2 linked regions of the Homo sapiens genome follow. The protein of the gene in region 2 purifies or fractionates together with the protein of the main gene of each other region. This does not show direct contact. Each region holds a gene or a part of one and is shown on either strand. Other genes may lie near its edges.

Evidence for each region.
Region 1: the proteins of MT1M (region 2) and TPPP2 purify together in Homo sapiens (affinity purification with mass spectrometry; one large-scale study listed by BioGRID and IntAct). This does not show direct contact.

What each region holds. Positions count from the first base shown.
Region 1 is NC_000014.9:21,028,638-21,033,280, forward strand, and holds TPPP2 (tubulin polymerization-promoting protein family member 2), read left to right. Parts: upstream 1-1,579; 5' UTR 1,580-1,667; intron 1,668-1,875; 5' UTR 1,876-1,944; coding exon 1,945-2,117; intron 2,118-2,374; coding exon 2,375-2,528; intron 2,529-3,254; coding exon 3,255-3,440; 3' UTR 3,441-3,682; coding exon of another isoform or gene 3,683-3,730; 3' UTR 3,731-4,178; downstream 4,179-4,643. UniProt on the Homo sapiens protein: Probable regulator of microtubule dynamics required for sperm motility. In contrast to other members of the family, has no microtubule bundling activity.
Region 2 is NC_000016.10:56,631,283-56,634,481, reverse strand, and holds MT1M (metallothionein-1M), read right to left. Parts: upstream 1,824-3,199; 5' UTR 1,751-1,823; coding exon 1,723-1,750; intron 1,143-1,722; coding exon 1,077-1,142; intron 732-1,076; coding exon 640-731; 3' UTR 501-639; downstream 1-500. UniProt on the Homo sapiens protein: Metallothioneins have a high content of cysteine residues that bind various heavy metals; these proteins are transcriptionally regulated by both heavy metals and glucocorticoids.

The sequences.
Region 1 (4,643 bases), on a different chromosome or scaffold from region 2:
CCACAGAATATTCTTGAGCAGGAGTAATAAAAAATACTGTTTTGTGAAAATTAATCTGATGGGGAGGAGGTAATAGAGATGGATTATGGGTGGGTGGGAGTGAAGAATTAGATTTAGAAAAGAGATCATTTAGAAACCAGAGTAGTCATCCAACTATGAGATGATAAGAACTTGAATAAGGGTGGAAGCAATAGGAATGGAAAGAAAGGCATAGATTTGTAAGACAAAGAAAAAAAATAGAAAGTGGTGGCATTATTAGATGGGAAAAGGAGGAAAGTCACCAGTCTCGTTGCTCTGTTTTAGGATCCGTGAGGTTCATCTATCTGTAGTGCTTCTGGCCAGAGAAAAGGCCGAAGAGAGAAAACCCTGAGGAACATCTTTGACCTGCATAGAAACTTATCTGAAGATTTTCAGAATCTGAGCCTCACCCTCAGTCTATCCCAGTTTTATCCTGACCTGTCCACATCTGTTATACTCCAAGGCTTGCTGGGCCCAACACTGGAAGCTATTTAATGTTTCTATTGCGACTGGCCTTTTAAAGCCAGTGGGATTCTCCATGCTACACTTGAGCCTGGAGACTAGAAAACATGACAGCCTGTTTTCATTAATCCGTTTTCATTAACTGCTGTGGTCTGAATGTTTATGTTGTCCACAGATTCATATATTAAAATCCTAACTCCCGGCTGGACGCAGTGGGTCACACCTGTAATCCCAGCACTTTGGGAGGCTGAGGCAGGTGGATCACTTGAGGTCAGGAGTTCGAAACCAGCCTGGCCAACATGGCAAAACCCCGTCTCTACTAAAAATGCAAAAATTAGCCAGGCATAGTGGCTGGGCTAATCCCAGCTACTGGGGAGGCTGAGGCATGAGAGTCGCTTGAATCCTGGGACTGGAGGTTGCAGTGCCCCAGGATCATGCCACTGCATTTCAGCCTGGGCAACAGACAGCGAGACTCCATCTCAAAATAAATACGCAAATAAATAAAATAAAATCCTAACTCCCAAAGTCATGGTATTAGGAGATGGGGCATTTTGGGGGGTGATTAAGTTTTATGAGGGCAGAGCCTTTCTGAATGGGATTCATACCCTTATAAATAGGCCCAAGGGAACTCATTCACCCCTTCTACCATGTGAGGACACAGCAAGAAGGTGCCATCTATGGACCGGAAAGCAGCCCTCACCAAACACTGAATCTGCCAGCACCTTGATCTTAGACTTCTCAGCCTTCAGAGCTCTGAGAAATAAATGTCTGTTGTTTATAAGCCACCCAGTTTGATATTTTGTTCTAGCAGCCCAAACAGACTACAACACCTTCCCTGGGCTCGCCTCAGCTTCTGTTGTGGGGCAGAGCATAAGGCAATTTGACTAGGACCCAGAGGATGGGTAAGCTTGGCTGAAATGATGGAAATGTGATCATCTGAAAAGGTCAGAAAGTTGGCAGTTTGCTCAATTCGGCATGCAAGGTAGGGAGACCAAAAGCCCCCTCCTTTGAAGGCAATGGCTGTAGCTGGGGCCAGAAGTGATGTCACATAACCACTGCTGAGGTCATAGAATCTTCCCTCTCCTCCCTCTGTCTCCTCATTGCCACAGCCAACCGGCTCCCACATATCTGCACACACTTAAATACAAAGGCCGGGAAGGGTCAGACCACCATCCGGGTACTCTAAGGTACATAAAAGAGGTAGGGGAAAGAGAGGATCATTCAGTAGGTAGGATCCACACTGGTATCTCCAATGCTGGGAATGGGAGACTCATGCTGTAGTTGCGTAGGTGCAATGGGAGCTGGGAGGGAGAAAGGAGAGAGCAACAGGGAAGAGGGGAGCTGTTCCTGTTGCTGACTGATTTTACCATAACACTCATCCTCATTACTCCACAGTCCTCCCTCCCCCTTCTCCTTCACCCCCAAGTGTCTCCCACGACTGCCCTCCCCGACCTCTAGCTGACCATGGCATCAGAGGCAGAAAAAACATTCCATCGGTTTGCTGCGTTTGGAGAATCATCAAGCAGTGGCACTGAAATGAACAACAAGAACTTCTCCAAGCTGTGCAAAGACTGTGGCATCATGGATGGCAAGACAGTCACCTCCACGGACGTGGACATCGTGTTCAGCAAAGTCAAGTGAGGAGCCAAAAATATGGAGGTGGGGGTGAGAAGAACCTGCGAGGTAGTTGGCCACGGAAGGGTTCACGTGGTGGAACATTTGCAGTGGGCCTACCAAGCACCACAGGGTACCTGGCGCTGTGCTATCCTTTGTCTTCGAGACACTCACTGATTGATAGGACAAAAGAGGCCAAATCTGAGTGAGGCAAGAGTTGGACCTTGGAAGGTAATGCATTCATGCTCCAAAGTTTCTGGATTTCTGTCTAACTGACCAGGGCCAAGAACGCCCGAACCATCACGTTTCAACAGTTCAAAGAGGCAGTGAAGGAACTGGGCCAGAAGCGCTTCAAAGGGAAGAGTCCAGATGAAGTCCTGGAGAACATTTATGGACTCATGGAGGGCAAAGACCCAGCCACCACTGGCGCTACTGTGAGTGACAGCCTTCATCCCCTTGACCCTACTTCCCTAAATCCCCATTGTTCCAGTCTACCCTCCCTAACCCTGCCAACTGTGTGACTGTAGAGACAGGGCCGAAACAGACTTTAGAGATCATCTAGACATTCCAGAAGTCAGGAAAATGTGGCCCAGAGAAGGGAAGTGACTTGCCCAAGGTCCATGGCTATTTTAATAGTAGATTTAGACTAATTTCCAAGTGTCTAGTATCTGAGCCAGGCAATTAGGGCTTGGTAGCTTTTGGAGGACATTAGTGTAGAGAATTTGGTACCTGATGCCCACTCCTCTTCCAATTCTTATTTAGGGTTTAATCTCAGGCCTCCTGCCTCTCACCTACTCCCTTTTTTAATTGTCCTGTCTGAACTAAAAGCTCTTTCTACAGTGGATATTGAGTCGGGGAGTGGGAGTGAAGTCCTCAGGCAGCAGCCTAGTCAGAATAACTCCTCTGGAAACAAAAAACCTACCCTCCCTCTGCACACGCCACACTCATTCCCACACCACACTCCTCCTCCCCCATGAGTGAACGGCTCTTACCAGAGTACCTGCCCACAGCTGTATCTGGGCCCTAAGAAAGCAGCACCCCATGCCAGTGGCAGAGCAAGAGCTCCAAGCACTTGTTCTAAGTATCTCGGGCCATCTTTGGGGAAGGGATATGACAGCGTAAGGAAAGGAAGAGAGCTCAAATCCATCCCTGGCTTGCAGAAAGCAACAACAGTGGGTGCAGTGGACCGTTTGACAGACACCAGCAAGTACACCGGCACCCACAAGGAGCGCTTTGATGAGAGTGGCAAGGGCAAGGGCATTGCGGGACGGGAAGAGATGACTGACAACACAGGCTATGTGAGTGGTTACAAGGGTTCTGGCACCTACGATAAGAAGACCAAGTAGAGAGGAGCTTCATCTCAGCCTGCTAGCCCCCTGACCCTGCATGTTTAACACCAGGGAGCTTGGAAAACAATAAACATCTGTGTGTGCAGCAGCCAAAATCTCTGTCTGTGAGGGACAGATGAGCCTACTAGTGTAGAGAGAGGGAGAAGAGGCAGCACAGGAGGGTGGGTTCTCCACCACACACCCTTCGCTCTGCTTAGCCTTATGCCTACCAGCCATCAGTTAGCATTCCTCCTCAACAGCTGCTTCCAAGAACAGGATGGAAGAATATATTTGGAGTAAAGAGATGAACCAGATGTGGAGGTAAAAGTATCTACTACTTGTGTTCACACATTACTGATATCCACCTCTCCACCCCCACCCCTCAAAAGGGTGTAGCAATTCCTCACGTGATGGACTATGACTATATCACATATTAGATCCTTCCCTGTCCCTCCACCTTCCTCATCTGTTGCAATTCAGGTTTTTTGGGTGGAGGAGTAGAAGCCAGCTAAGGTTGCCTGACTTCTATTACAAATTTGTTCCAGAGCTGGGGTAAGGGGAGAGTCTATTTTCAACACCCAGCCCAGAACTAAGTTTTACCCCACATCACCTCCATCATGGGGCACATGGGACAGAAGAGCTTACTGACTGCTAAGGGTAGCTCAGGAAGATGGCCAGATGAGGCAGGCTGCCAGGATTCCAAGAGCAGGAGTTCTGGTGCACTGAAGAAAAAGCAATTAAATCACAACAGAGTCAGATGTGTGTTATTAACTTTTTATTTTGAATTGATTATGGGTTGACAGGAAGTTACAAAAAATGGTACAGAGGGGGCTCGTGTGCCCTTCACCCAGTTTCCCCCAATGGTTACATCTTACATACTCAGATGTGGTTTTAGAAATTTATGTTCGATTAGAGCCGGGCCTGCCTCATTCGCTGCCTGGTCAGGGGCAGACTCTGGAGTCTGGGGGATTTGGGAGGAGCTTCTGGAAGAGAAGGGAAGCAGGAACCTCTGGGGAATGGGTGAGAGAAGATACCTTGAAATGCCAGTGAGCCAAGGTAAGAAGACTGGAAGAAAAAGAGGTTGGAAAAAGGAAGGCAGGGTGACTACGGTTGTTGGGAGTGTGGGGGAGACAGTCCTAGGCTCCATGGTAAGAGGAAGCAGGAGAGGACAGTTATATGAAGGGAGAAACCATGATTTCACAGAGAGAAGCAGGCTGGAAA
Region 2 (3,199 bases):
TTCACCATGGGAGGGCACCAAGCCATTCTTTAGGGATCTGTCCTCATGGCCCCAAAAGCTCCCACTAGACCCCACCTGCAATAGTGGAGGACACATTTCAACATGAGATTTGGCAGTGACAAAATATCTAAATCATAGCACCCGTGTAGGATTCAAGAAACTAAGAAGTTGGGTTCCAGCACTATAGCCACTTTTAAGCCTAAAATCCAATGTGGATCTCAAGTTGTGGAGGAAAATCAGAAAATAAAAATAAGGGATGAAGTTTCTGTACCACATTTGGAATCACACTAAAAGCGATCATGTATGGCCCGCACCCATATGGTGTGCACAATGCAATACCGTTTTACAGAAGGGTGAACTCAGTGAGTAACCTGGCTGGCCTGAAGGTGTTCACATTGTTAGTGACTCACATTTTCATCCAGAGACTGGTCTCTAAACTCCCAGTTTAACCCCCACCCAGTCCATTTTTTCCAAGGCACACAAAGAAGAACAGAGTAAGATTCAAGTCAAAATTGTTTTATTGTCACTCACATATTTAATATAAAAAGAAATGCAGCAAATGGCTCAGTATCGTATTGAAAAAAAATCCAGGTTGTGCAGCTTGTTCTATTAACATCTGGGAGAAGAGCTGTTCCCACATCAGGCACAGCAGCTGCAGTTCTCCAACGTCCCTTTGCAGACACAGCCGTGGGCACACTTGGCACAGCCCACGGGGCAGCAGGAGCAGCAGCCTGGGGAAGAAGGGGAGAGAGAGGTAGCAGTAGACTTGACCGGGCACCGCCCTGCCCCAATAGCAAGCCTGGCTGGAGCTCAGAACCCAGACCCAGAGGAAGCTTTTTACGTCTGGCACAGCTCTGTTCTGAAACCATAGATGCTACAGTTGGGATTTGTGTCCCAAGAGAAAAATGCTGTCCTGCCCCATCTGAATTTAGGGCAGAAAGCCTGGAGAGGGAATGACACGGGCAATGAGGGCAAAGAAAGCCCAGTTCCCCAGAAGGATGCACTCAGGGCCAGCCTTGGGTTCCCTCCCAATCTCAGCCACAGCCCCAGATTCCTGGAGATGGCCCCGCACTCACTCTTCTTGCAGGAGGTGCATTTGCACTCTTTGCACGTGCAGGAGCCGGTGCAGGCGCAGGAGACACCTGCAAGGAAGAGAAAAACGCAGTGGGCAGTGAGTGAGATGAAGAAGGTACAGCAATGGGTCAATGAGTCTCCAGTGCCCCCTCCTTTGTGCAGGGCCAGCCCTCAGAGCTCCTTTCCCACTCAGGGAAAGCCCCTGTCCTCTCCACTAACGCTGGGAAGGGCAAGCACCCTCCTGTTTTACCCTACCAGGAAGGTCCCAGGGGCACACCCAACCCAGGAATACTGAGATTGCCAGCCAGAACCTTCTGTGCTGAACCCTGAAGACTCAAATGTCTCCAGCCCCCAGTCCACCCTGATTGCTCAGAGCCTGGAGGAGAACACTGGGGCCCAGCCAGCAGGACCCTAACCAACTGGGTGATGTGGAGCGGGACTGCCTTGACCCTCAGTATCCTTAACTCTGACCCAGAGGCCCAGGAGGGAGGGCAGTGCTCTCAGAGGGGAGATCAGGAAGAAAGCACCTAAGGAAGTAAAGGAATTCCCTTCCGCTCAGAACTTAAATGCGACCTCCTCAAACCCAGAGACCCTCAGTACTGGGGCTGGGAAATGGGATTCCTAGGGCGCAGGGTCGGCTTCTCTTACCAGTGGTGCAGGAGCAGTTGGGGTCCATTTCGAGCCGCGGTAAGGCTGGAGATCTCAAGCGATAAATGGAGCGACTGCTAGGCCCACCCGGACGGCGTGGTGGAGCGCCACAGCCTGCGGCTGCTTTTCTACTCAGGGGAGGGGGCCGGGCGCAGAGGCCCTGCCCCGCGCTTGCACCCGCCCGGCTGGGTTCGCACCGCCAGCGGTCCTGGGCTGGGCTGGGCTGAGCCCAGCATAAGTGCCGGGCGCACCATCCCCTGAGCTCCGCTCCGAGTGCGCCGCTCGACCGCCCCTTTGGCTCGGGTTTGCGCGGGAGGGGCTGTGCGCCGGGTGGTACGCAGTGTCCCCGAGGTCCCGGCCGCCTTTCCCAGTTTCCCCGAAGTTGCCTTTGCCTTCCACCCTCCTCCCCGCGCTTTCCGGGACCCCAGCCTTGGCGTCGCGGGCGTCTCCACCCCACCCCCTCGCCCCGCCGTTTTCAACTGGGCCTGTCCCGGAGTCCCGGTGCAGCCCTCCTGCTCCAGTCCCCGGATCGGTCGTGTGCGGAGCGGGGGGCGTGTGGTAGGGAGCGAGTCGTGTGCAGAGCACCCGCCACCAATGTGGCTTTCGTTTCTCCTCCTTCCCCGCCTTGCCTGTCCCTGTCCACACCGCGGTCCCTCGGACTGGCTCCTCCGTACACAGCAACACGGGGAACACTGGTCGGCCTCTCTCTCCCGTCCATTCTCTTCGCCTGAGAGGATGTGGGGGAACATTTGTCCAGGTCCTCCTTTGCAGATAAATCTCCATGCTCCCCACAGCCTAGCCGGCCACCCCACTACCGTCTGGCAGTTCTGGACCTGTGGGATGTCCCCAAAGAGAGATGACTTCAGATGATATGCAGACTCTGCTTTAAATTAAAAAGCAAGATGGGTGAGGTCGCGGGAAGCTGTAGTCCCAGCTACTTAGGAGGCTGAGGCGGGAGGATCACCTGAGCCCAGGAGTTCGAGTTCTGCCTAGTCCACATAGCAAGTCAGCATCTCTAAAATAATAAAATTAAAAAACAAGACATGCAGTTGTTTCTCTTCAGTATACCTGACTATTGCATGACATTGAGTCTACACCAGTCCCTTTTTAATCTCTTTCATTCTTTGAATCCTCACAGCAATCCTAAAGGGAAATACTAGTTATGAACCCGTTTTGCTCATCACAGGACTACAAAGGAAATGTCCAAGTAACTGGCTGGTCGTCACAGAGCTAAAAATTTGTGCCCTTGTTTAAGTCCAGCCAGCCTCTTAAAGGAAAGTGTCCATGATCAAGCCTTCCTTTGGTCCAGATATGTCGTCAGCACTTCTCTATTGCTGGAAATCTTCTAAACAACAGGGGAAGGGCACCGCGGCCCACACCTGTAATCCCAGCACTTACGAAGGCCGAGGCGGATGAATCACCTGAGGTCAGGAGTTGGAGACCAGCCTGGCTAACATGGCGAAACCCTGTCTCCACT